Regions from separate parts of the Homo sapiens genome. Here region 2 is linked to region 1. The links come from fine-mapping of genetic effects on gene expression. A gene starts in region 1. The other region holds a variant in brackets. All regions are shown on one strand. Distances are between the middles of the regions. Region 1 holds the start of MB21D2 (Mab-21 domain containing 2). Region 2 overlaps MB21D2 (Mab-21 domain containing 2).

Region 1 (15,409 bases):
TTATTGGCCTGAAAGGAGAAACAGCCAGCAAAATATCCTGCTAGAGTTGGTGGGCAAAGGAAACAGGGGAGGGGTCCCTGAAGGCCCTTATGAATTTCTCAAAGTTTTTGTTCACCATTTTATCTTCAGAACCCTGCACGCTGATTGGCAAACACTATTACATTCATTAAGTATTTGTCAAATGCGTGAAAAAAACAGAGGGAGAGAAAGAGGGACAGAGACAGGAAGACAAAAAGAAATTATCTCAGGCGGGGCATGGTGGCTTACGCCTGTAATCCCAGCACTTTGGGAGGCCGAGGTGGGTGGATCACCTGAGGTCAGGAGTTCTAGACCAGCCTTGGCCAACAACATGGTGAAACCCCATCTCTACTAAAAATACAAAAATTGGCCAGGTGTGGTAGCGGGCGCCTGTAATCCCAGCTACTCGGGAGGCTGAGGCAGGAGAATCACTTGAACCCAGGAGGCAGAGGTTGCAGTGAGCCAAGATCATGCCACTGCACTCCAGCCTGGGCAACAAGGGCAAAACTGTATCTCAAAAAAAAAAGAAAAAAGAAAAAAAGAAATTATCTTTGCTCCTACAGACTAGGCAGGCTACTGAGTATAGTATGTCTCACCCAAAAGTGATGGAAACTGATTGCTACTACAGTAAAAGGAACATGAGCTTCTGAGTCAGGAATAACTGGATTCAGTCTCCAACTCTGAATGATCTTGGCCTAAGTTCTTGACTTCTTTCTTTGAGCCTCACCATTTCATCTTTAAAAAGGGTAACAACACCTATTTCACTTCCAAAATAGGCATGATACTTATGCTTACAAAGTTGTGGAAAAAAGATTACATGAGCTAATGGACTTAGGCAAAGTAGCTAGCACAATGGTCAGCACATGGTATGAGCCAAAATCCTCCTGGGCTACCCTAATTGTACTGCATAGTTCTTTCAGATGTCAAGCTGCAGAAATAATTCCAATTTAAGTTCACTGGATCTTCTAAGAAAGTATATTTTTATCCCAGCACTCTGGGAGGTCAAAGCAGGAGGATTGCTTGAACTCAGGGGTGTGAGACCAGCCTGGGCAACATGGCGAAACCCTGTCTCTACCAAAAATACAAAAAACTAGCCAGGCGTGGTGTTACACGCCTGCACTCCTAGCTACTTGGGAGGCTGGGGTGGGAGGATCACTTGGAGCCCAGGAAGTAGAGGTTGCAGTGAGCTGAGACTGTACCACTGCACTCTAGCCTAGGTGACAGAGCGAGACCCTGTCTCAAATAAATAAATAAACAAACATTTATTTAAATAATAAACTCACGTATATATTCTTTTTTAGTTAGCAAAGTAATTTCACATTCTGACATAACAGTTCTGAAAAACAATGCTTACTGTTATCCATGTTTAATAAATGAAAAAACTGGCCAGGCATGGTGGCTCATGCCTGTAATACCAGCACTTTGGGAGGCCAAGCCAGAAGGATCACTTGAGGCCAGGATTTTGAGACCAGCCTGGGCAACATAGTGAGACTCCATCTACACAAAAATTTTAAAAAATAAAAAATTAGCTGGGCACGGTGGTACACATCTCTAGTCCTAGCCACTAGGGAGGCTGAGACAGGAAGATAGCTTACGCCTAGGACTTTGAGGCTGCGGTGAGCCATGATCATACTATTGCACTCCAGGCTGGGCAACGGAGCAAGATCCTGTCTCAAAAAAAGAGAGAGAAAATACTAAGACCACAAAGCCAACAAGAGGCAGACTGGGAATGAAACTATAGATTTTAACATTTTATTATAATTACTATGATTTTCTCAATCAAAAATTCAAATAGGAGATCTTATTATAGAATACTTGAACTCAGACTGTTCCAGAAATCTACTTATATTACGCTAAAACTTATAGCTAAAATCGAAACAAAATCCTGAAAGAAGTGATTTTTTAAAACAAAGCCTTTCCTCTGGATTTTATGCATCTATTCTTAATAGTCTCAAGTAGGAGAAGAGGAACATGTTTTAGAGTAAGGCTGACCTGAGTTTCAGTAGCATCTCTACCATCTATTAGCTTTGTGACCCTGGATATCCACTTTCTTCACCCCACTAAATTTCAATATCTTCATCTATGTAATGGGAAAGCAATACCTCCTCAAAAGTCTATGTGAAGTTCCTGGCCCTGAGAAGATGATTAGTAAATGATTAACTACCGTAAAAATCATGCCATGGTACCGACCACTTGGTCTGTAGGTTAGGTGACGGCTTGTTTCTTTCCTGCCTTCTCCAGCATCTGCATACCCCCTTTTCTGCATCTGTTCAATGGGGACACAAACCAGTCTCTATCGAACCTCACCAGGGAATGAAGATAACAAAAGAGCTGGCAGAGACATTATGCTAATACCAAATATTATTAAAACATTAATGAACTCTGGCAATTTCCCTGAATTTTGATAAATGGTGTTTATTATGCACTGCCAGCCTTTCGCACAGTCTGGGCTCTCAAATATTAACTAGATAATAACACCAATCATTCTCCTAAAAGACCAAGGTACAGAGGAATAAGAAGTGAATCTAGACAATTGCAGCTAACACCTGCCTCCAAAAAAAAATCAGAATCTCTGTACAAACAGAGAGCATCAGGACAGACCCCAGAGACCACAGTGACCACCAGCAAGCTCAGATCAACCCCACAGCCTGTGCAGAACCCTACTTTGATAAGACAGTGGAGTGTCTTGGTGTTGACAGGTCATTGATTATGACAGCTGTCTACCACCTCCTTGCTCTTCAGTGTAAAATTCCTCCAAACTAGACAAAATGAAAAGGATCTGTGAAGCTGGAGGGGCTTCAGACTTGGCTAACAATCTTACACAAAAAGAGAGTAACATGCCTCACCCCTGCCAACTGCCTGAAACATGAGGCAGTATTTTTCTCAGCTCCACTAAAGAGGCTTGCACCCAATTCGTGGTTGGCCACTTCATTCTGTGTGAGGGGATAATATCTGTAAGCTGCTAACAATCCCCAGGTGCAGCTCAGATACAGAACAAAGCCAAGAGGACTGGCCACCCTCCACCCCCCCGCCCTGAAATGAGGGCCTGGTACCACCCAAGTAACACCTTAACAAGCTAGGGGTCATTAAGAGACTTCATTTGCATAGTCATCAAAGAACCAAAGCTATGGCAAGTGAAACAAAGTGTATAAAAAAAATGATTTTGTTCTTTAAGCCAAGCCAAAATCTGCTTTAGAAAAAGTAAATCCACATAGGAACCCTTGCTGTCGCCAAACCTCCACTTGTGTAGAGCAGCCAGCATCTCATTAAAGGAAAGCAAGGAACTCGCAAATGAATGCAGCACCACACACAGGCAAGCAAGCTCATTTCGCCATCTGCCTTCTAGTGTCCAGAGGGGCAAAAGGCTTAAATGACACTCTCTTGAATCTTCTCTCCTGCAGGTGGAAATGCTAAATTCCCAGGGGGCAAGAAAGACTGCTTGCAAGGTCAACTGGGTAAAAAGGAATAGAAGCAAATCTAGTTTACCTGTCAACACAATGCCACCCATGGCATTAAACACATGCAAAAATTAAGCACCCTAGAATAATTTACTTTTTTATATTTGGATAAAAGCTTTGCTGATTCAGTGTATCAGCTTTGGAGTTAAGCACAGAAGTTCCTCATGAGCCAGGCACTTAAATTTACCCTCCCTACATTATCCCATTTCCTGACCCATGACTACCCTAACTGGTGGTGACCCAGTACCTTCTTCTAGTAAATGACCTACGCAAGTGACATCAGAACTGATCTGGGGGCTGTATTAACACAATGGCAGACTTCCATTATTTATGCCACAGAGAAAGGCTATGATTAACTAAACAACTTAAGTAACTGCGCTCAGCCTTCTGTGTGTGGCCCCACCTTCCTGACAATCACTGTGTTGGCTTTTGGCTTTGTAAGCATTTTAGGCTTCCCTGTGGAAGCTCACTCCTACCAGGTTTTATATATATATATATATATATATTTAATTCATCTATTCATCTACATAGTTGAACGGCTGAATCTCTCAATAGTTTTTCAACCTCATACGCAACGTAAGACACACTTGAAGAGTGCGGCGCAAAAGGTAAAAACCAGCCTAGAGTTTTAACATGTTTCATCTAACTTCCCAACGCGTGAACAACTACCAGCGGACACAGACACGTTCAGTCTGTATTACCCCGTCCTTGGGCAGTGAGGAAGAAGAAAACCTAGAAGGAAGAAGGTATCCCAGGATAGAAGCAGCAACAGCCGGCTGAAACCCAATTAGATTGCAGGAGAAAGAGAAAAGCCCTGTCTTAGTCTGTGGCCAAAAGACCTTTCCCAATCAAATTTTTCAACACCTGGAAAATTGGCTTATCTATTTGTAGAGAGCACCCAGAGACGAGCGTTAGAGCAGCGCTACCCTGGAGTACCAGTTCTTCGGAATGTTGACCGCCGGCCACGCACCGCTTGACAGCCACGGATCCGCTGGCGGAGCCGCAAGTTACAACCCAGGCGCCTGGCAAACTCACACTACACCTCAGTAGCAATAATCCCAACGGCAGGACACCTGGGGAGGGTGGGCTCGGTCTCCCGGGCCTGGCTCAATTATGTTCCTTTACACAGCATTCAATCATGTTTCAGGAGCCGTAGGTGAGGGGCTGGAGGTGGGAGTGGGGGACACATTTTCTAGCCCCCGACGTCTCCGCGGTTGGAAACTCTGGGCACCTCTTTCGGCCAGCGCTAAGACAATACACAAAGAGCAGGGAACCGGCGCTCCTCTGCGGCCAGAGCTCCGCGCCTAGTCACGGAAGAGCTGGGAATTAAGAATTCCGAGCTCAGCGAGAGCCCTGAAGAAGCACCGGAAATGCTTCCGATCGCTTCATAAGAGAAGTCAATTTGCAAATCAAAGTTGCAGGAACTCCGGACGCCTAGACTACTTCAGCGGGTTACTCGGGAACACCCAACAAGTTTGGCCACCGGGGGCTCGGCATGACAGCGCCGCGCCGCGAGACGACAGAAGCAACTTGTCGCTCGGGCGCCAAGCCAGAGCCCTGAGCCGTCTCCGCTCCCAAGCTCGGGAGAGCACCCAAGAGCCGGCGTCGGGAAAGCGGAGGTCCCTGCCTCCGGCAGCCAAATCCCTCAACTGAAGGCACCTCAGGGGCTCACCTGGACTGCACTCGCTTCCAGGGGCTTCCCCCAACAGTGCAACGCTTCACCGCGAACGCCTCACCTGCCTGCCAGCCCCAGGTGGCGGAGAAATTAACAAAAGAGCAAGCGAACAGGGGGAAAGGGAGACCCGGCGTAAAGTATAGTAAGGAGGGGAGGGCAGGCAGCTCGGCTTTCGGCGGAGAAAGAAGAGAGAGGCGGAACAGAGATGGCTTATACCCAAGGCACCGGCTCGGGAAGGCAACCCAGAAGGGAAGAGGTCGAGAAGCGGCAATGGGTTTTCTACTCCGCTTCCCATCACACACACACACGCACACACACCTCCCCCTTTTTCCTCCTTACCCAGCATGGAAAAGATGAAATCCTTGGCTGTGTGAATCTCCAGCGCTCTCTGGTCGTCGTATTCCCGCTGGTCGTGCTTCGTAAATTCTTGGATGAGTTTGTTCAATTCCTCCACCCGAGCTCCCGACCTGAAATCCAGCTCCGGGAACGCAGGCTTGTTGTTACAGCCCAGGGAGGCTGCCTTGTTGGCGGTGGGAGCCGCCATCTTCATGCAAAACGCGCCGAGTAGCAGCTCCGCGGCAGCGCGGCACCCACCCCCGCCCCCCACCCCGCCCCCCTGGGCCTCCTCCCCTCGCAGGCTCCCAGGCTTTGGCCCCGGCTCGTGGGCGGGTTGGCGGGCGGGCGTCTGGGCGGGCAGTCCCCCGCTCCGTGCGCTCTGGGCGTGCGAGCTTCGGGAGGAGCTGGACTGCAGCGAGGGTGCGTGTGTGGCCCCGACACCCTTTTCTCCGGCCCCACGCCCGCCCCGATGCTGCGCGTCCCTGCCCTGCCCTGGCCCTCTCTGGCAGCGGCAACGGCGGTCGTAGAGCCAACTGGAGCCTCCCCCGGGCGAGGAAAGTGAAGTGGAAACAATGTGAAATTCACCAGCTCTGAAATCAACAAGCTGCCGGCTCCGGTGTTACGGAGCCAGCACCAGCGTCTCCATTTAAAGGGACAGCGCACCCAGTGGAAAGGAAAATAAATAAATGACAGAGGTCTGCACGCATATACCACTTGCCAATCCGTACTTGGGAAGACGCGCGAGGTGTGGATGCATTCTTTCTCCACCTCCACGGCCGTCCCCCCATCCCCTTTCTGGGCAGGGTTTGCCAAGCGCATTCAAGGAGAAGAAAGTCTTCCTCCGTTTGATTTTAAGGGCGGTGTCCTGGGGGAGGACATCTCTGTGCGCGTTTACCTCTCTATCCCAAGAACTCCAATACCTTTAAATAGTAAAGGAAACTGCCTTAAGGAATATGAAACCTGTCTTCTACCCTTTTCCTCTTGGATTGCCAAGATGATAGGATTGAGCGTATAAAAAAAGAGGGTCCACATCTAACCCAGTATTGGCACTCCCACTAACCCCTAGATATCCCTACCTTTGCCCAAGGTAATTAATGACCTGAATAACAGCTTATTTATCTTAACATATAATGAGTTAATGAGATTCAACCTACTCTAATATAAAGATAGGGAAACTGAAGTGTGGGTGTGGGAGAGGGGAAACAATGTATTGCCCCAGGTTCCAAGAAATGTTGGATGACAAGATGAAAATTTTCTCATTCAACAGATAAAATTTGAGTACGCACCATTTGCCAGATGGAGTGACAGAATGTGACAGTGATAACCAAAAGACATGGCTCCTACCATGGAGTTAGGCTTACATGACAAGGCAGGTTCAATCTAAGTCATAGTCCTTTAGGCAGAATAGAGTCTCAGAGGTGGTTTTAGTGTTTATGGGGTGTATCATTCAAACACTTAGGAGGCCCATTGGCTGTGAGAAACATAGGTTATCTTCCTCCCTAATTCTCCAAAATCTCTCTTCTCTATCCCACAGTCCCTGATTTAGATCAGGTCTGTTTCACTTTCTTACCCGAGTTCTCATGGCCAAGAATACAAATTGTTTTGTTAGACATGGAAGGAAGTACGGACTCTTCCATGCCTTCCCCTATAAAATGGGAATAATAATTCCTGTCTCACAGGTTGTTTTAAGGATTACGTGAGATAAAACAGGTCAAGCACTTAGTTCAAGGACTGACATAATAAGTACTTAGCTATTATCAGCTTCTACTATTATTGTTATTAATTCTTTCACTGTTCCTCAATCTAGTAACAACTTGTTGCCAGAGTGATCTTTAGAAAACACAGACCTGACCACTGACCTCCCCCTGGAATTCCTCTCTTCTTTACTCCGTTTACACCAAAACCAATCCGCGTCTGCCTTTTTCTTACAGCTTTCCGGAGACCCTCCCCTCAAGCTGGTGGCAACTTTTCCTTCCTCAGAACCTACTCTCAGAAGCTTTCATATGATGCTAATGAATTTTGACCTTGCTTCATCATTGCTTTTTGTTTTGGGTTGTGTGTGTGTGTGTTTGTTTGTTTCTGAAACAGGGTCTTCCTCTGTAGCCCAGGCCAGAGTGCAGTGGCACAATCGTGGCTCACAGCAACCTCAACCTCCTGGGATTAAACAGTCCTTGCATCTAGATCTCTCAAAGGGATTACAGGCGTGAGCCACCACACCTGACCACTTCATCATTGTTAATGCAAGTTTTAGACTAAAAGATTCTTGGGGATGAGGGCTACATCTTATTCATCTTTGTATTTCCTGCAGCATATGGTCCTACCGAAGGGTCCTCTATGTTTATTGAATCAAGTAATGAGTGAAGAATTGTGGCATAACCAGTTAATTTCTCTTACTTTTCGTTTCCTTCTCTTTGAAACACACTTCCTCACCCACTCAGTATGAAAGAGAGAGGATCCATGCCTAGATAAATGCTGGTGGACTGATGAGGAAGTGACTTAAAAACTCTGGTTTTTAGGCAGGGCGTGGTGGTTCACGCCTCTAATCCCAGTACTTTGGAGGCCGAGGCGGGCAGATTGCCTGAGCTCAGGAGTTCGAGACCAGCCTGGGTAACACGATGAAATCCCATCTCTACTAAACATACAAAAAATTAGCCAGTTGTGGCGGCGTGCACCTGTAGTCCCAGCTACTTGGGAGGCTGAGGCAGGAGAATTGCTTGAACCCAGGAGGCGGAAGTTGCAGTGAGCCGAGATCGCGCCACTGTACTCCACCCTGGGTGACAGAGTGAGACTCCATCTCCAAACAAACAAACAAACAAACAAACAAAGCAAGCTCTGGCTTTCGCAGCTCTGCTATGCTGCCCTGACTTCTCATCCTGAGAGGATATTAACATTACCTGGGCAGTACTAGAAGCCACATAAGTGTTTGGAACTCCAGCACAAAGTGATCCACTCCCATCTGTCAGTGCTTCACTAGTGATCAATGGCAGGCACCTGTGCGACAGCTGGCTGAGGCAGTCATTCCATAGAGCAGAATGGTTCTAGTTACCTCCAAACCATGTACAGTTAAGAAATACTTCAGACAACAAAATCGAAACACTTTTTATTTGTTAATTTCCAAACATATGAATGAGGCATCACTAATCTTCCCTTAATTTTACCTTTTCTTATGATATTTATATCCATAAAGAAACAACAGGTTGTTAGCAGAAAGTATTCCTGTTGTGCCGTAGTGCTGGACCCTGGGGGTTTGAATGAGTGAGTGGTCTCTCTGATGTTCCTCATTGTCTGTTCTCCTTCCCGTCAGCCAGATCAGATTTCTATGAATCATGGACCCTCAGTGAGCCCGCATATCCAGATAATGTAATTGGATGGTAAACTAACACCTTCCTAGGCTCTAATAGAACGCTGATAAGATTGTGTCAATATCCCTTGTTGAATTAGAAGAATAGAGAAAAACGATCAAAAACCATAATTTCCTGAATTGATCTATTGGGAGACTTTTTAACCTCTGAGCTTCTCAAGGGCAAGTACTGTGTTTCTTCACCTGTGTAAACACTGCATTTAATTTAGTTCTTGACCCATCTTATGACCTTAGTTTATATGTTCAAATGAATATATAAAAGAATGAATGAAGCCGGGCACGATGACTCACACCTGTAATCCCAGCACTTTAGGAGGCCAAGGCGGGCAGATCACAAGGTCAGGAGTTCAAGACCAGCCTGGCCAACATAGTGAAACCCCATCTCTACTAAAAATTCAAAAATTAGCTAGGCATGGTGGCATGCACCTGTAGTCCCAGCTAGTTGAGAGGCTGAGGCAGGAGAATCGCTTGAACCCGGGAGGTGGAAGTTATGGTGAGCCGAGGTTGCACCACTGCACTCCAGCCTGGGCAACAGAGGGAGACTCCTTCTCAGAAAAAATAATAATAAAAAAGAATGAACTAATACCATCCCTCAAAGTCCAAGAAGTCAGAATTTAGGTGATTTTTGCTACAATTTAAATATCTCAATGTAAGCTATCTATGGTTTCCCAGTATTTAGTTAAGTGTTGTTATAAATGTAAGTATTTCTGCATGCATTTAATTAAATGCCCCAATTTTTATGCCTTTTTCTCCCTGTGTATGTTATATGACCTAAGAGAAGGAAGAGAGATAGAGAGGAAGGTGGAGAGAGAGAGAAAATCATTATTAGAAGATGTTAAAGAGTGTCTGAGGCTTGAATAAAAATGCATATCTCTAGAATTTTGACAGATGGACAAAGGTCAGTGGAGTCTACCATCTAAACAAGCACTAAGGTAGGCTTTTCCTTTGCTGGCTCTTGCAGCATCAAACAGAACAGAGTAACAGCCTGCATTTCCAAACTGCTGTCACACTTAGAGGTAGAACTTGCCCTTCTACTCCCAACTCCCAAATTTTATTAGCATGTGAAAGAAGTCTTCATCTTGCTTCTCTGGAGCTGTTTGTTGTTAAATACAGCTCTGAAGTTCTGTGGCAAACTCTCAGCCATGAATAACTGGGCTGTGCAGAGCCTGCATTAAAAATAGCAAGCTCCACATCCACATGATGGATTAACAAAATATAATTTTAAACAAAGATTCTCTGGTCTGAGGGAGATTTAAATAGCAGCCTAGGCTACAAGATCTGGCCTTCTTGGGCAGCTGGATTTTCAATAAAAGTCTAACAAATGGAAGTGGCCTGGGTTTTTTATGATTTGAAATGCAGGCAGGAAAAAGAGAGGCAAACATCACAGACGTGTGGAATGTTGACAGTAGAAGGAACTTAGATGATAAATTCCATCTACCCCCCTTATTTACCAGATGGGAGAATGAGGGCACAGAAAGAGAAGGGAAACTTGACTAGATAGTAGAGACAATTCTGTTTCTATTTTTCATACTAACTTTAAATTTACTAAATATTTGTTATTGTGTTTCCAGACTGCCAGAAGGAACATGAAAAATGCCACGAAATTTGATCAAAATTATAATTTAAAAAATAAAAATAAAAACAGGAGAGTGGCCCTTGGGCAAAATGCACTCATTTCACTTGAAGTTAAATCTCAGTAAACCAGAAACTGCTGACATTTGGAATTACTTGGCTACTGATTTTTCCTGGCAATAGGTAGACAATCAAGACTACAGCTAAATCTCTTTGGTAGTCATAAACAGAGGTGCGCACGTCCCTGCTTGGGGCAAATCGGGCACTGTTACTTCTAATGAGATTAGGCCGTTTAATTTTTTTTTTTTTTTTTTTTTTTGAGACGGAGTTTCGCTTTGTTGCCCAGGCTGGAGTGCAGTGACACCATCTCAGCTCACTGCCACCTCCACCTTCTGGGTCCTGATTCAAGCAATTCTCCTCCCTCAGCCTCTGGAGTAGCTGGGATTACAGGCACACACCACCACACCCGGCTAATTTTGGTATTTTTAGTAGAGACAGGGAATCACCATGTTGGCCAGACTGGCCTTGAACTCCTGACCTCATGATCTGCCCACCTCAGCCTCCCAAAGTGCTGGGATTACAGACGTGAGCCACCGCGCCCGGCCTTAGGCCATTGAAATATTAGCGAGGTCCCCAGAACAATATAAATAACCCTCTCTATTCAGACTATTCAGTCCTAATAAAGTGAGGCCCATGTGAAGCCCACCTGCTCTGATGTGTTCACATGGTTCAGAGGGCCTAGTCCCAGCTTCTCCCTCAACCCTGTATCCTCATAACCTTGAGGGCGTGAGTGATCTAGCTATGGAGAAAAGTGCAGCAATGTAAATCTCTCCACTCAGTCTCTCATTTTATTCTCTGCTCTCTCTCTCTCCCCCAACCCTGTACTCTAATGACCTTGAGGGCGTGAATGATCTAGCTATGGAGAAAAGTGCAGCAATATCAATCTCTTCATCCAGTCTCTTGTTTTATTCTCTACTCCTGCTATACTCAGGGAAGCAAAATCTGTGCGTGTGAAAAGAAGGAAATGAACTCTAGGGATGGAAATAACAATATCTGATAGCAATTATTAACAATTCCTCCTGATAATAGAGCACTTTACAGTTCAACAAAGCGCTCATCACAAAATTCATTTATCGGTTCCTCACAGCCTCTTACTGAAGCAGGTTAGTGAGGACTATTATTATTTTTTGCATTTTGGAAATAAGAAACTAAAGCTCAGAGAGATAGTGAAGTTTGTGGCTAATTGTCATCCTTCAGCTCTCTATTTAGATGTCATTTCCTTGCAAAGAGCTTTTTCTGGATCTCCTCCACCCCCACACACCCAGGTCTAGGTCAGGTAAATTCCTTTGTAGACTCTCCTTCCCTCTGGACTTACGTCACTGTTCGTTCTCACACTTCCTTGTATCTGCCTGATAACTTTCCTGTTTCCCTCACAAAAATGTATGCAACACTGTCTGTCTTGATCACAGATGTATCACCAGTACCTCTTACTGGATGTGTAGAACATAGTAGATATTCAATAAATGTTTGATTAAAAAGTAAATGCAGGCTCAGACCCCAAATTTGAGTCTTTTGATTTACAATCCAAGTTCTTTCCATGAAACCTCACTGAATCTGTTGTTAGCACCCATTGAGTATACAGAAAAACACCAATAATCTCTCACATTTTAGAGAATGGGTACGCTTTATCAGCATTTCACATACACAATCTGATTCCAAATTTTGATTCAAGTTACCTTACTGTAAACAAAGCCTTTTGTTCCTCTTCTCTCTACCTTAAAATCTAAGCTCAGGCCCTTTGCTCAATAAAGTTTACGACAAAATAACTTTAAAAATTAAGTTCATATTTTCAATTCTTCTCACTTTTGGGAAAACCCATTTGACTTAAACTCTACACATCAGGTAAGAAAGGGCATAGTAATAATTGCAGGTAATTTAAAATAACTCGAAAAATCCTCTTCGCATATTACGACTGCCTTAACCCCATCAGCTGTTCTGGTGAAACGGTGGGGCCCTCATAACCAATCAATCCGTTGATACTGTTACATTTTGTTCTGGCCCTTGAACTTGCCAAAAGGCCCTGTTCTGGGTTCTCCACACCAATCCGTATCCTACTTTACATATACTCTGGGTACTGGATCGAGTGCCAAGGATAGACCATAATCCTTTGTCATGGGAAAAGTGGAGCTGTTTGGCTTGCTTTGCTGTGGTCAATTAGTTAATTAAATATAAATTAATTTAGTTTTTTTTTCTCCTATGTGGCTTCAGAGGGTGGAACCAGGAGGGATTGATGGCAGCTACAGACATAAAACTTTGACTGAGGATGTGGAAGCATTTTCTCACAATGAGAGCCACTGTGCACTGAATAGGCTGCTTTATGAATTAGTAAACTCCCCATCACAGAAGGTGTTCAGGGCTGTGTTATCCACCCATCAGGGTTATGCTAGGTTCCTAAGTTAGTAAAGAGCTGAGACTATGGCCTCTGAAATGTCTTTCAACTCTGAGAAGCTCTGACTCTATGATCCATTTTCAGTTAACAGGAAAACTGAAAACTAGCTTCCTACAAGGAGTCACTCCATGACAGAGCTATGTTCTGCACTAAACACAAGGTGTTTGAGATCTATTTTCATGTAAGGCCCAACGAAGATCAAGGATTATGTCTTTTATTTTTCTAGGCTTAAAAATACATATTTCCTTGTTTCTGGCTTTTGTTTTCTTTTTCTTTCTTTCTTTCTTTTTTTTTTTTTTTTGAGACGGAGTCTCCCTCTGTTGCCCAGGCTGGAGGGCAGTGGCGCGATCTCGGCTCACTGCAACCTCCGCTCCTGGGTTTAGGCCATTCTCCTGCCTCAGCCTCCCAAGTAGCTGGGATTAGAGGCGCCCGCCACCACGTCCGGCTAATTTTTTGTATTTTCAGTAGAGACGGGGTTTCACCATGTTAGCCAGGATGGTCTCGATCTCCTGACCTTGTGATTCAGCCTCCCAAAGTGCTGGGATTACAGGCGTGAGGCAGGGTGCCCAGCCGTTTCTGGCTTTCTTACTGTCCGATTCTAGCAGGTTATTTCATTCCACCCGATACAAAGAAGTTCTGTGGTACAGAAACATGCCACAGACATCATATACATACCGTGCAACCCAAATTTATATTTGGAGAAGTTCTCAGTAAAAAGAAAGGGTCTTCCTTTAACATATTAATTTACATGCTCATTGTTTAATGATAGAAGCCAGTTCTCTGAGCACGTCTATACCATTGGCAAAGGAATTGTTATAATGCCTGTTTTGTTTTCTAGATCTTGTCCAAAAAAAAAAAAAAAAAAAAAAAAAAAAGCCGGGCACTATGGCTCATGCCTGCAATCCCAGCATTTTGGGAAGCTGCGGCGGGCGGATCACAAAGTCAAGAGATCGAGACCATCCTGGCTAACATGGTGAAACCCTGTCTCTACTAAAAATACAAAAACTAGCCGGGTGTGGTGGCGGGCGCCTGTAGTCCCAGCTACTCAGGAGGCTGAGGCAGGAGAATGGTGTGAACCTGGGAGGCAGAGGTTGCAGTGAGCTGAGATCGCACCACTGCACTCCAGCCTGGGGACAGAGGGAGATTCCTTCACAGAAAAACAAAAACAAAAACAAAAACAAAACCTCTCTAAACCCTACACTGTAAGAAGTTTATTGAAAAACTTGGCTTTCTTTTTTGTTTTCACCTCCAACCATACTCAGTACAGCACAAGAATAGCAGGAGTTGTTTCCCCTGATCTGAGACCTGGTGTGTTGAGTTGTGGTCCAAAGCTAATTTTAAATTCCAAATGTATAACCTGGAGAGAGACAGAGAGAAAGAGAGAGAGAGAGGATATGAAGAAAATTGTGATGTTCCTTCAGCCCTGACAATATTATCACACACACAGCCATAAATATACTTTCTGGACCATGACTTCTAATTCTGCTTACTCTGTTAGTACTTTCTAAGCAGCAGAAAAAAATACCCTCACACCCTTTACATTCTCTAATGTTTCTTTATAGTCTAATAGAAAAAAATAAGAGAAAAAAAAGGAAGAAAGATAGACTAAAAGAAAACATAGCTCCCTTATTCTATCTAATTTGTGATTATTCTTGTCTATTTAAACTATCTTGGGGATATGAGTACATGCATTTTATTGAGATTTGCCTTAATTTTTTTTTTTTTTTTGAGACAATCTCACTCTGTCACCCAGGCCAGAGTGCAGTGCTGTGAACTCTGTTCACTGCAACCTCTGCCTCCCAGGTTCAAGCAATTCTTGTGCCTCAGCCTCCCGAGTAGCTGGGACTACAGGCACATACCACCATGCTCAGCTAATTTTTGTATTTTTAGTAGAGACGGGGTTTCACCATGTTGGCCAGGTTGGTCTCGAACTCCTGACCTCAAGTGATCCATCTGCCTTGGCCTCCCAAAGTGCTGGAATTACAGGCGTGAGGCACCGCGCCCAGCCTGCCTTAAATTTTTTAAAGGGGGATAGATAGGAATATATCGGATATACATTGTAAATAAATAAATTCAGACAAAAGCTGAAAGTCAGGAGATTTCTGTTCTGGTTCAGCTTTGGCCATTAGTTTCATGATCAGAGAAAAATCCTCTCCTTTTCTCCGAATCTCCTCTTCCTCTTGTGTAAATGAATAAATAAGGTGTCATCCAGGCGTGACATTCTGAGGCTACAGCTCTAACATGAGAAGACAAATAAAGCAGTGCTCCCTACAAATTCTTAACACAATGTGTTTGTTTATTTTCCCCCAGTCTATCCTTGCACAGCTTGACATTCCATAGTTGAATGTTCTAATTTTTTTCTAAGGATCTTTACTCTAAAAGAATTAGCCTAAAATCAAAAGAGAAGAGAATCTATAAGTGCATTAAGACCCCCTCCTTGACACATCTTGGCTAATGGCCTCTTATTCTCTGTTGGTGGGGGATGAAGCAAAGCCTGCTGATGAAATTCACTCAGCAGCTTGGCCCTAGGGTATGGCTAC
Region 2 (15,409 bases), 120 kb before region 1:
GCCTCCCTGACGAGCGCCGCGCCCTGCTCCACGGCGCCCAGTCCCATCGACCACCCAAGGGCTGAGGAGTGCGGGCCCACCGCACGGGACTGGCAGGCAGCTCCACCTGCAGGCCTGGTGCGGTATCCACTGGGTGAAGCCAGCTGGGCTCCTGAGTCTGGTGGGGAGGTGGAGAAGTTTTATGTCTAGCTCGGGGATTGTAAATACACCAATCGGCACTCTGTATCTAGCTCAAGGTCTGTAAACACACCAATCAGCACCCTGTGTCTAGCTCAGGGTTTGTGAATGCACCAATCGACACTCTGTATCTAGCTACTCTGGTGGGGCCTTGGAGAACGTTTGTGTGGAAACTCTGTCTAGCTAATCTAGTGGGGAGGAGAACCTTTGTGTCTAGCTCGGAGATTGTAAACGCACCAATCAGCGCCCTGTCAAAACAGACCACTCGGCTCTACCAATCAGCAGGATGTGCGTGGGGCCGGATAAGAGAATAAAAGCAGGCTGCCGGAGCCAGCAGTGGCAACCCGCTGGGGTCCCCTTCCACACTGTGGAAGGTTTGTTTTTTCGCTCTTTGCAATAAATCCTGCTGCTGCTCACTCTTTGGGTCCACACTGCCTTTATGTGCTGTAACACTCACCGCGAAGGTCTGCAGCTTCACTCCTGAGCCAGCAAGACCACGAACCCACCAGAAGGAAGAAACTCTGAACACATCCGAACATCAGAAGGAACAAACTCCAGACGCGCCACCTTAAGAGCTGTAACACTCACCACGAGGGTCCGCGGCTTCATTCTTGAAGTCAGTGAGACCAAGAACCCACCAATTCCAGACACAATAGGAGATTCAAGATTTGAGCAAAGTCTGTGTAGACCAACAAGCTATAGAGACATTTCTTTATAAATAATTCTTTCTAGTGAGGCAGGTTATTCTATGAGGTCAAATTAGGCAGAAGAAATTTAGAAAAGCCCTTCAACATCCACTTGGCCTTCCATGTAGATAAATTATTCTTAATGGAGGTAGGGGGAGGGTTATTGCATCATGGTGTTTTAGAATTAGGAGTATGTGTAGCTTGAAAAACCACAGTCTCTAAATTTATTTTAAAATCCCCTAATATCTATAATTTTTATAGTACAAACCTCAGAAAGCTTGTCAAAATATTTTTGGCTGTCTAGTGGGAATACTTAGAAGATAGTGATTCTCTAACAAGTAACAGGAAAGTGAAAAAGGAGTGTCCAAAAGAATTAAGGATAGGTTGAAGCACGAGGTTTTTGTGTTGATCAAAAGATTTCAGGATATCTAAAAACAGAAATTTGAAAACAGAAATTAATGTAGAAACTTGGATGGGGTCTCTTCACCCACTTAATATTCGATATAATTGTTACTAACAACAATATAAGGAGACTGGGTCTGGGCATAGAACTATGTGAAACAAACAGGCAGGTGATGCCAAAATTCAGAAACTTTCTAGGCCAGGACCTTCACTGCTAAGGAAGCCATTCATAGACTGTTACTTTGTTATTTACTCTTTTTACATTTTGTTAGTTTCTTCTCCACACCATTAGCATAGAAAAACACAAGATGACTGCAACGTCAATATGACAACAAGGAATGATTCCGCTGGCTGGAGTCGTGCTGTGATCTTGTCAGTCACAGGATTCTGATAGGAGACACTGTCCCCAAAGGTTTCTACCACACGGAGAACACATGGTAGGTAGCAAATTTAAGCAGGTTATATACCCAACCTGGACTTACCTTCTTGTCACGCAAACCCCCAAATGGCTTACTTTTAGGATTCTCGTATAAAAAAGCTGAACAACACTGATGTGTGAATTAGTGAAGGTCAATGCTTGAGCTATATTTAAGGACCTGAGAGCCAAAAATAGTTTGTTTTCCAGTAAAATCCTTTTGTAAGCAACAGCTTATAAAATGTTACAATCACAGCTGTGCAGAGGGTACAGAGAGATCTGTGCCTATGACCACGAGATTGGCCTTGGAGAGGTCTCAGAATAATGATACCACTCTGTTGTAAGGAACGAGACAAGCAGAAGCAACGTCCTCTCATTTATTCCAACCTATCTGAGCACTCCCTGCCACTTCTGTCCATCTCAGTTTATCTACAGCCCCAGCCAGGATCTGCAAATCCCATTTAACCGTCATAGGTTATCATTGCTTAATATTTGTGTGTAGCTGTTGTCTTGGTGTTTGTTCTTTTACAGCTCTTCATGAAGGCTCTGAAGACAGGCCACACATCTCATCTTCAATTTACAAACGATGAGAGCAAACAAGACCCAGAAAAGGGAAAGGTTTGCCTAAAGTGTCATAGCTAATGTCAGAACCGTCTGCATCCAGGTTGTCCAGCCCCTTGTCTACACACTCACTATTGGTCCACAGGTTGCCTCAACCCGCCTTTCCTACCCACTACAGAACATTCTTCCTTCAACAGGTTCCTTTTCGGAGGACAGTCATTTGGTAAATTTCCACAATCATTATAGAAAGTACCTGCCCATCACCACAAAAGATCAGATGAGTCTGACTTTACTTTTAATCATTCTTATTATCTTGTGAGATGGGACGCTTCTTTAGATTTATTAATTCCCATAAATGAAGAGTTTGGCTCATGATAGCAGATTATTTGCTTTGGTCCTCCAAGCATAGGCTGTGTTGAGGCTGGAAGGAACAAGGATCAGAAACAAGCTGCTGTTTATCTCAGGGTAGCTTCAATTATCACAACCAAGGAATGCTGTCTTGCCTCTTGGGTCAATCACCTAGGGCATCATTCAAACCACACCTCACAGTCTTCAGTTTGGTGATAGTCTATAAAAAGTCGTTTGAGATTCCTATTTCTATTAAAAAAGTATTAATGTAAATGGTAAATTATAGATTTATAAAATGTAAGCAGTAAGATTTTGTAGGGGGTTTAGTCTACCAAAGTCTACAAATGCTCAGAATTTTTAAAAGATATCATATTCAAAAAATATTCAAAAACTCCCTCTAAATTACAGAAATACTGTTTTAAAAATACAAGTGGTCTATTTACATGTATTTCATTTTTACATCAAGGCCAGCTGAGCCATTAAAGTTGTCATACCTTTCATTTGTAGCTAATTCGTAAATACCTCTCTCCCTACATCTTTAAAAAGAGTAGTATTTTGCTAATAGTAACTAACAGTTCTTCTGCCTACTCCTCTGAGCTCAGAAGTTAAAATGATAGAGACATTTGGTCCATTTCCTTGCCCTAAACAGAAAATTTTCCATAAATGGTCATTTATCTTCTCTTAGCATTCTCTAAATGATCCATCTATTCTGCTGATGAAAAGCTCTGGAAATACTCAGGGTTCTGGTATCAGAACACAGTCCAAGGTTTACCTGTTATCTGAATGCAGGCCCCCCTATGCAGGCACATAATAGAATTTATCTTAAACAATAAAAACAGATTCTAATACCAGAGGCAGTATAACACAGAAGAAAGTTCTTAATTTTTGAAACAAACAAATGGGTTCAAACACTGACTCTGCCCTACCACTTAATTATCTATGTAATTTTGAACAAGTTACCTAATTCCTGAGTATTGAAGTTTAGACTTACCGTGTTTAGAGTTGTTGTGATACTTCAATAGGCTCATGAATATAAAGCATCTAGCAAGAACTGTACATGCAGGTGTTCAATAAATGTTTCCTGTGCTCCACTGTAGGTGTTGGTGCAACTTAGTAAGATTTTTAAAAATAATATTGTCAAAATGGATACTCCAAATGTGTAGATATATAAATCTAAACTTGAGACTAATTTGGAAACTGAGGCAATTTTAGTGAAAGCTAGAACAGCTACCCCAATCCATATTTTACGGATAAGGATATAAAATCAAAGAAACAAAATTTCAACTATATTCAAAGTTAGCCCCTTTTATCTTCTGTGATTAATTGGTGAGGCAGAAAATGGCAAGAGAAAAATATATCAATGCGCCCTCACCAAGGTCACATTAGGAGTCCATTCATCTTGAAAAGAGAGGGAGAGTGGTCCAGAGTGCAAACATTCTCATCTTAGCTGCCATACCAAATTAAGGCTATATATGTCTTTATACATCTTTGAACAACAGTGTATTTACATGATGGTTAATATTAGACTTTTCTGAGATTTCTTGCTTATTCTTAACCACACAAACCCAGTCATACGGTCTCTCTGATGATCGCTGAATGTCGAGACCCAACCGCGGAGAAAAACTGTCAATTCAAACTCAGAAAAATAGTTACATTAAATCAATATAAAATTTCAGTGTGATATAGGAAATGGTTTACGAAACATGCTGCTTTTGAACTTATTGCTAATAGCACTGGAAATGGGCATAAACTATTGTAAATTATTACAGCTTCAGTCCTAAAAAATAAAAATATATTTTTCCAGGTAATTAACATAAGGTAGAATTTTAGATATGTAATTCTCCATTGGTGAATATTTATTCTAAAGTGTTTAGATTATACATTCTTTGTTTAACTGTTGAAGAAATTATAGCATAAGAGTTGTTTTTTTTTTTTTTTTTTTTGAGATGGAGTCTCACTCTTGTTGCCCAGGCTAGAGTGCAGTGGCGTGATCTCGGCTCACTGCAACCTCCGGCTCCTGGGTTCAAGCTATTCTCCTGCCTCAGCCTCCTGAGTAGATGGGATTAGAGGCGCCCGCCACCACGCCTGGCTAATTTTTGTACTTTTTAGTAGAGACGGGGTTTTGCCATGTTGTTCAGGCTGGTCTCCAACTCCTGACCTCAGGTGATCCACCCGCCTTGGCCTCCCAAAGTGCTGGGATTACAGGCGTGAGCCACTGTGCCTGGCCAAGAGTTGCATTTTTAAAATTAACTGTTTTCCTCAAAGAGGGGCATTGATTACATCCCTGTAATAATCTAAAAAATACATTTGTATTTACCTGACATTAATAAAGAAACAGCAACAGAGATTGATCCCTATTCTTCCTTTAATATTAGTAGTAGCTAGTGCTCCATTTAATGACAGAAAGGCTTATCCTCTAGGCAAGACTGTGGGAGAGTGAAAGAAGTCTTTCCCAGATTCCTACCTGAAACAGTCATACCAACAGCCCCTTCAGTGACTCAGAGAAAGGTTCTGGAGAGAGCTTACCGGGATGGAACTTGAGGCACCTTCTCTAAAGACCACTGCTGAGCTTTGAAGCCACAGGAAGCCCCCAGACCCTGGGAGACCAACACCGCTGCTCAACACGCCTCCTGTTCCTTCCCAGCATTACCAGCAAAGGCTGAACTCCAACTCAGAAAATTCCTCTTGGTGAGGCAGTGATCTGATTCCAAACCACCAACGATTAGTTATGACCAGGGGGCTTAATTCTCCAAGGAAGTGCATTATAAAAGTCACCCCAAAGAAACCTCCAGTTGGTGATATAAAAATATGTGTGTGTGCTCACACTCATGTATGTGCGTGTGCCTGTGGTACACAAGTGACTAGGAGCTCCTAACGTCCTTTCCACTTTTCCCACCTCTCCACCCAGAAGTAAGATTAGCTACATATGCCTGCCTCTCATTTTCTCTGAAATAATTCTGTATAGTACTTTCAGAAATATTTTTTAAATGTCTGGTCCTGGCTCCACCCACTTCTAAACCAACCTTTACTGGCATCTTTGGATCTTCCATTTCAGAAGAGAAAGCCAGGGGACAGAGAATAACCTACTCTCAAAATAGGTGAAACCAGCCTCATTAGAGAACTGAAGGCCCGTTGAGTAATAGCTTGTAAATACCCCCCGATCAAAAAGTCAGCCATGAATAATGTTAAAATTATGACTCCAGCCTTAAGGCATTGTATTCTGTGCTTGAAACAGAAGTGATTTTAACCGATCTTCTGAACTTCAGGAGGACAGACTGGTTAGTAACTCAATGATTTGCTTAAATTTCAGATAAGAAAAGGTATTGGACTACATCCCATTTCTAGCCCTCTCAGCATCTGAGCCAAAAGTCCGAGGTTATAGTACCAATAGGAAATTCCAGGAATTTTTTAAAGGATTTTAAAATTACTAGAGCCCAGAGGCCTCTGGACCTTTTTCGAGACGTTTAACCAAGAATTTGTAGAGTGATCTTCACTAGGACTAGAAGTGGCAAAAACAAAACAAAACAAAAAACAAAACAAAAACAGGGCCAAGAGGATCTTTGAAACTAGTTTCTTTTTATGCCTGTAATGGAGTTTTGTCTGAAAACATGGCACGTAAAATATTGCAAATATTGCTAAGTGTATTTGAGACACTAGTTCAGAGAATAGTTATGGTCGTTTATAGCTTAAAGAAACAGCTGTTGTAATATGCTTGCTACTTTGATGGTTTACAACTATTTTAATCTACAAAGTGTAATGTAATGGTCAAAGTATCATACATTTTTAACAGGCTTTAGTAGAAGCATAATTATTATAGAGGCTATTTTTTTTGAATCAAATCAGATAGCATAAACCAGCTCTTAGATAAAATACACGGTAACCCTGATATCTGTCCCGAGAAAGAAAAGAGGCACACAACAACGGCAATAGTTTAAATATACTGAAGTAGTTTGGTATACCAGTTTAAATATTTTGATGAGCCAAATTCAAACTGGCTAAAATAACCCAAGTGTTGACTCATTTAACTAGAAAGTCTAGTGGAGATCTCAGATGTGGCGGGTGTGGTAGGTCATGTTTTAATTCCCAGCTCCCATAACGCCATCCAACGTCAGCTTCATCCTAAAGCTAGCTCTAGTCAAGATTGCGTGATACAAGATCAGAAAACCAAACGCCACATGTTCTCACTCTTAAGTGGGAGTTGAACAATGAGAACACACGGACACAGGGAGGGGAGCATCACGCATCGGGGCCTGTCGGGGGGTAGGGGGCTGGGGGAGGGATAGCATTAGTGACGGGTTGATGAGTGCAGCACATCACCCAGGGCACGTATATACCTATGTAACAAAACTGCACGTTCTGCACATGTAACCCAGAACTTAAAGTGTATTAAAAATAAATACACAAATAAATAAAGATCGTGTGATAGTTGTCAGTAGCAAAAGAATCCAAATGCTTTCTCCTCCATATCCAGGGAGAGTGTATGTTTCTGTCCCAGCATTCCAGTTTGGAACGCTGAGCGTGTCCCTGACTGGAGCGGCTTACATTCTGTGTCGCTTGTTAATGTTGTGGCCAGGGAGATGGTTTGTGCAGATCAGCTTTTCCAATTATGACGCGTTTTCAGCACTAGGGATGAAATCATTTCCTGAGAAGGACAAGGATGATGTGGCGGATAGACATTAGTAGTAAAACTGGGGAAAGAGGAAGACTGAATGTTGGTTGTTCACTATATGGACAACTGGTCCGAAAGACACTAGCAAGCCCATGGCTGTATTTATTGAAAATTGCTGTTAGTATAATACTAATAAGAAAATATACTAATATATAAATATACTAATATAATACTAATAAGAAAATAATTCCCAGATTACAAACAACAACAAAATTTCAAGGCCAGTATGTTTCTTTTTTTATTATTTTTGTGTTTGACTTAGATGGTTGAAATGTTTTCATTTTTCATTTATAAGCATTACATTAATTTCCATGCAAAAACCCAAGATCGCATATGTCTGATTTCAATTGGCCAAAATCCAACCCTTGAGTTTGGACATTCAAGACCAAAATGAACACGTTACTTGCCCTTTCTATGAGTAGACATCATGGGTGTCCTTTGAAAGATCAGCAGGCCTCCTGACCTCTTAAACACCAGCTTGCCATGAGTCCACACCAAAACAGGGAGCCAATACCTTCCAGCACCTAATCAGGCAAGTAACTTCACTCATGAAGACAGGACACCTCTATACCAAGGCTGCCACCCACAGATATTTCCTGGGTGCTGCTCTATAGCAATACCTGCTTTTGAACAGACGTGGTATCTTCTATTTGGGGATTATAAGTTCTTCCTGCCAGTTTTTCTCAAAACTCTCAGGAAGAGTAGAGATTTTACAAAAAAGCTTACCTCTATGACCCCAAAAGAAATAAATACAAAGACACCTACTTCATCAAGTGTATATTTTCCCCAGCTTTAGATGGGGTCAACATGTATAAAGCTTTAACAACTTCTCTCAGTAAGACAGGAACCAGGAATATCAAAGAGGGCAAAGCAGGACCCCACAACTGAAGGAGAACTAAGCAAATGCAAAGAATCATTTCACTGATAGAAATGGGCAAAATGAAAAAATGATAGAATTTCGAGAGTGGTTGTTAATTTATATTGAAACACACTTTGCAATTCTGACAATGGCAAAGATTAGTGCAAATAATAATTATAATGGTATGTTCTTTAATAGGATTTAAATAAGGCTTCAAATAATTACATATGCTAAAATTAACATTTGGAAACCTTAATTCTGCTTGGAAAACTGTCAAAGACACCCTTCAAACCACCCAGTGTTCTCTGATTTGAGGACAATTACATTCAATGAAGTTGCTCCAAAACACAATTTGTAGTATTATCACTTTCAAAGTTTACATTGTTTGGTGGAAAAGGGGGGAAACTACTCTGGTCACTGGCCAAAATAAATAAATCCAGCTAACATGCCAAGTAGTTCCCAGGTTCATATGATTCTCAAATATCAGTAGTGGTGAAAGCTCATAAGAAAAAAGACAAAAACAAAATAATAAAAATAATAGGATAGAATCGTTAAGCATCAGAAAGAGATTTGTTTCCCCATACCCATGAACAAATTTGCACCAAGTATGAAACAGAAAAAAGCAAGAGGATTCATGGGCATTTTCATCTATGGCTTAAGATCTCCTTAAAAAGAAAAAAAACTCCAACAAACTAAAGAGCATGACAATAACTACAAAAAGTAAACAACGAAATCAGAGGCAGAATATGAAATAGTAATATACTGTTTCAGAGCCTGCACCAT[C/T]CTGCAGAACCAGGAAACTTAAAATTTGTTCTTAACAAATCCAATCTAGGCTGGATATGTAAAAAACAGAAAGATAGCATCACAAACCACACGACACATTATCAGAGTTTAAGAATCAGGAAAAAAAAAAGTCAGCTAACACTCAGAAAAATTTGTCATCAATTCTGAAATGGGGCCTTGTGACATCGTCAGGATTGATAAAGACAGAGATTGACTTTCCCGGGTTCTCAGTCACTAGCTGCTGCAGTTTTTTTGCCAAACGGTCATCAGGCTGGTTGGGGTCCCCTCCGTCAGACTGTGGAGAGGGGATGCTGGTGGTGCTACCTCGCCTCTGGAGCTCCAGTGTCAGCCGGTTGGCTGCCTTGACATGCTCAATGGCGGTGCGCAAGTGCTCTGCCGGGTCTGAGCGCACAGAGGACAGCTTCCGGGCGTGAAGCATGACTGTCTCCTCAGACAGATGTTCCAGCATGTTGCACTGAGGGATGAAATAATTGGGGCACATCTTGTTGACCAGACAGTGTTGCAGGTCATCGATGAGGCCCAGCAAAAAGTGGGCTGCATAGTCTTCTTGAGCCAAGTAGTTGGCAGGAAGTCTGTCGCAGGCCCAGAGCATCATGCTCCGCAGGTGATAGGGGCTAATAGCCTTGGGCCGGGACAGCAGTTTAATGATGATGGCTTTGCAGGCCTGATAGGCCTGCATGAGGCTGCTGGAGATGCACTTCTTCAACTGCACCTCGCTCCTGGCAAAGGACAGCCGCCATTCATTGTCCTTCTTACCCTTGTAGGAGCAAGCAGGCACCAAGTAAAACCCACTGATGACCTCTTCCTCAGTAATCTTCCCATCCCAAAAGTGGTTCTCCATGAGCCAGCTCTGGGCCACTGCAGGCCAACCTTTGAAAGATACCACAGGGACAATATCATACAACATGCGACTACTCCCTACACCCAGAATGATGGAGATGATGGTCCCATTTTTTTCCACCTTTTCTACCTTTGGCATCCCTCGCTGGGGTTTCTTCTGTATTTCTGATAGGACAATGCTGATAGAGTCATAGAACCAGTCAGCCACTTTGGTAGGTGAGAAGAAGTAGTTGGTGGCACCATTGATGTGATCTACAATGGTGCAGCAGTCTTTCCATTTACTGATTGTCCCCTCATCAAAGAGCCGAAGGCTCAGCCAAGAGTGGCACAAGGCTGAGTGGCGCATGTCGAGTGTCACAGGCTGATTACGGTCATGCAGCTTGAGGGCTGGCACCAAGAGGGTAAAGTCCATATCATAGTCAGTACCCCGGGCATAGACATTAAGCTCATCTAAGTCCAGGTCCACCACGCCTTCCCGGACACCTCCAGAGAGCAACAGGTATTCATTAGCCACTGGAAGCTTTTGGTCCAGCTTTTGCACCATTCCTGGAAATAAAGAAGAAAAAAACAACACTATTACAGGAAACACAGACATAAGAGTCTTATGCATGAAACAGAATGCTCTGATGTTCCAAGAACCAAAACTCATTATCAGTACTAAATCAAATCTCAGGCTGCTGCAGAGACCTGGCCAACAGTACTTTCTCACTAGTGCTAGAATCCACCCTTTTCCAAATGCAAGAATTATGATAGATTTTTCTCTCTCAGTGTGAAAAGCAGTATCGTTTTCAATAATAAAACAGGGCCCCTCTTCCCCCAGTCATCATCTCAGTTAATGGAATTGCCATCCACTCAGTTATGCAGACTGAAAACCTCAGTACATTTCAACTCTTTGCTGCCCTTCTACTGCCAAATCTTTTCCATGGAACCTCTGCCAGGGTTTCTCACTTCCTTCCCTGTTCTCCATCTCTCCTGCCATCATATGAAGTTCGGCCTTTTTTATCTATTGCCTAAGCGGTTTTCTTTCCCCAGGCTCTTTGCGCTTACACTCTTCTTTGTACCAGCGGTTCTCAGTGTGGGCTGGAGACACTTTCAGGGGTAATGAGTTCATAACTCTCTTTATAATAATACTAACACACTGTTTGACTTTTTTTTTAAGAGACAGGGTCTTGCTATGTTGCCCAGGCTGGTCTAAAATTCCTGGCCTCAAGCAATTCTCCTACCTCGGCTTCCCCCAAGTGCTGGGATTACAGGCATGAGCTACCACGCCCAGTCTTGTCTGACTTTTTTACTGTGTTGCCATTGTACTAATGGCACAGAAACAAGGGAGGATAATATTGCCAGTGCCTTAGCAGCAAAGACACTGATGCCAAACTGTACTAGCAGTCAGTAGGTTCTTTACCACTGACATGCATTAGCAATTTTTTTTTAAAAAACCCAGTTTTACTTAAGAAAATCCTTGATGGAGAAGAAAAATAAGTTATTTTATTGAATCTCAACCTCTGAGCCATTAGAAAGACTATCTTCCTAATAGTCTGTGTGATGAAATGGAAATAACCATAAAACCCGTCTTCCTCATACTGAAATAGGAAATCTGTCTTCAGGAAAAGCACTCACGTAACTGAGTTGTGAGCTGAACTAGCCTCTTTGTTCATGGAACGCCATTTTTACTTTAAAGAACAACAGAAAACTATGGCTATTTAGATTTGGGTATTTGGTAGACATTTTCTTCAGAAATGAACAAAATGAGCCTGGCTTCAAGGAAACTACTGACAATATTTATTGCCAATGATAAAGCTGAAATTTCTAAGGGAAAATTAAATTTAGAAAACTCCGCACCATGAGCGTGACATCTTCTCGAATTGTATACGTTTCTGATTAAATTGGCGATGATATTAACAAATGTGATTTTTTAAGAGATTGTGGGTCCTTTTGAGAACCATGTCTCATGTATTAAGCAGGTATAGAAGACTCCGTGCATGCAGTAGGAACATAATTCAAGCTATGACTAAATGATAAGGGAAAAAATGCATGAAATTAATAGGTAGATAGCATTAATAGATGGAATTAACATAAATTCTTAAAGGCTAGACTTAAATGACTGTTCCATAAACAACATATACATTTTCCCTCCTTCATTATATACTTGCTTACGCTTGATTCTCTGACAAACTACCAGCGTCATCCTGTGATTTATTTAACAGTGTTTCCCCAAAGATCAAGACCTACCACAAAGTATTATAATATTCCATTATTCATTATAATTCATAGTTTGCTCTTCATAGGACAATCCCAAATCAAATAAACCATATGCCTGTGTTTTCTTACTATTATTGTTATACTCTGAACGTTCGTGACTCCCACTCACATGTTGAAATCCCAACTTTCAATGTGATAGTATTAGGAGCTGGGGCCTGTGGTAGGTGATCAGGCGTGAGAGTGGAACCCTCATGAGTGGGATTGGTACCCTTATAAAAGAAACCTCAGAGCGCTTCTTTACCCCTTCTGCCATGTGAGGACACAGTGAGAAGACAGCCATCTATGAACCAGGAAGCTGTCCCTCACCAGACAATGAATCTGCAGGCACCTTGATCTTGGCTTTCTTGACATCCAGAATGGTGAGAAATAAATCCCTGCTGTTTATAAGCTACTCAGTTTAGGTACTTTGACATAACAGCCTGAATGAACTAAGACAATTATACTTTAAAATTTAACGCTCATTTATTAAAATATGCTCTTTAAAATCCTATTTTCCAAACCACATTAACCATGAAAAAGTCTTTTATTTAGTACAATTCTTTACACACAGAAATATGGCAAGTTATCATTTTCTTTTTAAAACCGTAAGTTAGCCAACATTATAGTGTCAACAATTCATCAGAAAGAACATCCAACAAACCTGACTTCTTGGCTGTTTCTCACACTATCTGCACTGTGATACGGCATCCAGGTCCCTCTTCAATAAAGGACTTCCAGCTGCTTAAATGCTAGCCCTTAAGGATTGTCTCAGCTGCAAAGGGCTGTCTTAGCCAGGTCAGGTCCTGTGGCTGGGATGGGGGTTGCAGGTGCACATCCAATAACTGATCGGTGTGGGAGTGTCCCAGCTCAGGATACTCTGAAGGGCCACTCAAACTCTGAGTTCCCAGTGGGGTTGGCTGTGGCGAATGATGCGCCTGCAGGGAAGCTCAGCTTCTCCTACTTGAACCTGCTTCCTTCCCCACTTCGACAGGTGTAGATCCCAAGGGTGCTGCTTCATAAACATCCTAACTCCATTTCAGAGGCTGCGTCCTGAGAAACCCAACATACTACACTAAATACTATCCAAGCAAAACAGAAGATACTACCTACTACCCAAACAAAAACCGTCTTCAGCATGGAAAATATGTTTTTCCTTTTTAAAGTGTTTTCTTTTTTAAAGCCAAACTTAATCCGGATTGAAAGTTCTTATAAATGCCAAGACAAAGATCCATTTCTCAAATGTCATTATGTTTTAATATTAACCTCATCTTTGCCATGTAAAGAAATACTACCATCCCACGTTTTGGTTATTGCTTTAAAGGATAAAATTGATTTCTCAGATTCCAGATTAGGTTGTGAAAATCATTTTCATTATTTTATGAACTCACATGTTGGAACAGTCAGTTTCAGTGAGATATATTTGATAATGAAATCGTTTACTCTTCATTATTTCAAACATCCTTTCATTCTACCATTCAGAATACCATAAATATACGTGAGAAGTACTGTGAAATGCTGTGTTGTGGTTAGTAAATAAGATCTGAATCTATTAAAGTGATATTGTTATTTGAGTACACACTGTTGTCTCCTCTTAGGCGTAACTAACTCAAAATCCTATATATGCTTTTGTCCTGGACAGAAGCAAACTGGCTTTGAGCCCACCAACTAAGACTCGTCTATATAATCAGGGTAACTTGTGCATTAACAACCTGGAGATAATTTGTCTACAAAAGTGCCACTGAATTTTGCCTTGGATTGTTACAATCTTGTTTGGAGAGTCTTGGGTAAGCCATAGCTAAAACTCCCTTCTGCCCTCTGCTGGATTTAAGAAGTTTTAACCTGTTTTCACTTGTCAATATACACACTAGAAAATTCCTGCCAATGATAAAAGGTTCTCTTTCCTCTCAATGATGCTTATGCATCTCGTTAAAATGTTGACCCTTTATTCAAAGGAGTCAACATCAAGTATTTGGCTAAATTCTAATATTCAGGAGATAGGGTAATTTTGAACACTTCTTATTCCTTTTAAAGTGAAGAAAGCCCTTTAGTAGCAGAAAGAGTATTGCAGACACACATTTACTAAGCCCCTATAAGAAACAAAGTCCCTAAGGCCACACTGTTCCAGAAGCTAATCCCTTCCTACATCCACATTTCCATTTAGCCTCCCTGAGCCCATTAGTCTGCAATTTTACAAACGATATGGTAACAGAACTCGAGCCTTCCCCAGCGTTATACAAGCCCAAATGTCTTCCTTGAAAACTTTCCTGGGCTAAGTTTAAGTGAAAATGAGCTGACATCAGCTATCATGGCAGATGGGTTGCCATGCAACCAAAACACAGGGCTGGAAGGGAAAAAGACAGAGGAGGGAAAATTTTCAACTGTACGCTTTGGCTGTAGGGATCAGTTCCAACAAGTGCCATCTCTGCAATGATCCGAGGTTTTCTGTGTAATTACTGGAGGATAAGATCTAGTGACTCTGGCTGTTTAGCTGTTAGATTATCCAAAGCTATGAGTGGGAACAGAAGGAAGATGCACATACACCACTGAGCTTGTTAGCAGCAAAACAAAAAAGGAAGGATAGAGGATAGCTATTCCCTTGGGTGGGTCTCTTCTTTTCATGGAGGCACTGGCATATGCTTGTTCTTAAGTAAAACTGCCACTCAACCTCTTTTCCTGTAATTCACTGTTTCTTGGTTTTGATATATTTCAGAGTTTTTACTTAAGAATATCTTAATAGTACCCTTTTATATAGATACTCAGGTCCTAAGTTTAAGGAATGTGTTTCACGTCATGCTTTCAGTTATTTACTGATTATCTTTAGAATATCAAGTGAAAAATGGAACTCTGTCCCTGACTTATGTTCTAGTGAATAAAACTATATCATATTCCACTAAATTGAAACTGCAAACCTTCATCATGCAAACATATAATGCCAGATTGCTAATACTAGAGCACAAAAACTAAGTATGATTTCTTGTTGTCTTTACAACCCCACCCCAGTAAGTCTGTGAAAACTCAGAGAGTTCAAGAAATACTAAGTAGGTAAGTCAAAATAGTACCTGTATAGACTTCTTTAAAACAGATACACACACACACACACACACACACACACACACACACTTACATATGTTGAAGGGAGAAAGGTTTATAAAAGAAGTAAAATTTTTATGTCTTATAATTAAAGTTACAAAATTAGATAAATTTTATCTTTTTATATACCTTTGACTATATGCCTGAATATCTCAGTAATAGTCATTGTTTCATATAAAAGAGTTTCCTTTTTTAGCTCCAACTCATGTAGCACATACCAGTAACAAACAGTGCCTTATTCCAGCAGTGGGTTTTAATGGCAGGAAGGGTACACGGTGTGATGATGTTGACAAAGTCCTTCTTTCATTCTGATGCATCCC

Evidence for each region. PIP is the estimated chance that this variant, and not a neighbour inherited with it, causes the effect.
Region 2: its variant is fine-mapped to the expression of MB21D2 in fibroblasts (GTEx, PIP 0.95).

Annotation. Positions count from the first base shown.
Region 1 is chr3:192,912,140-192,927,548 of GRCh38, forward strand. It overlaps MB21D2 (Mab-21 domain containing 2), which reads right to left and starts at 5,717. Exons shown (of 2, transcript NM_178496.4): 1 at 5,491-5,717. The coding sequence starts at 5,701. RefSeq lists enhancers at 2,555-3,055, 4,683-5,012 and a silencer at 5,663-6,022.
Region 2 is chr3:192,789,344-192,804,752 of GRCh38, forward strand. MB21D2 (Mab-21 domain containing 2) reads right to left here. Exons shown (of 2, transcript NM_178496.4): 2 at 7,472-10,307. The coding sequence ends at 9,043. Among named protein-coding and RNA genes, the nearest start is that of FGF12, 70 kb to the left of the region's middle. RefSeq lists an enhancer at 1,081-2,280. The variant C/T (reference allele first, on the strand shown) is at 8,901.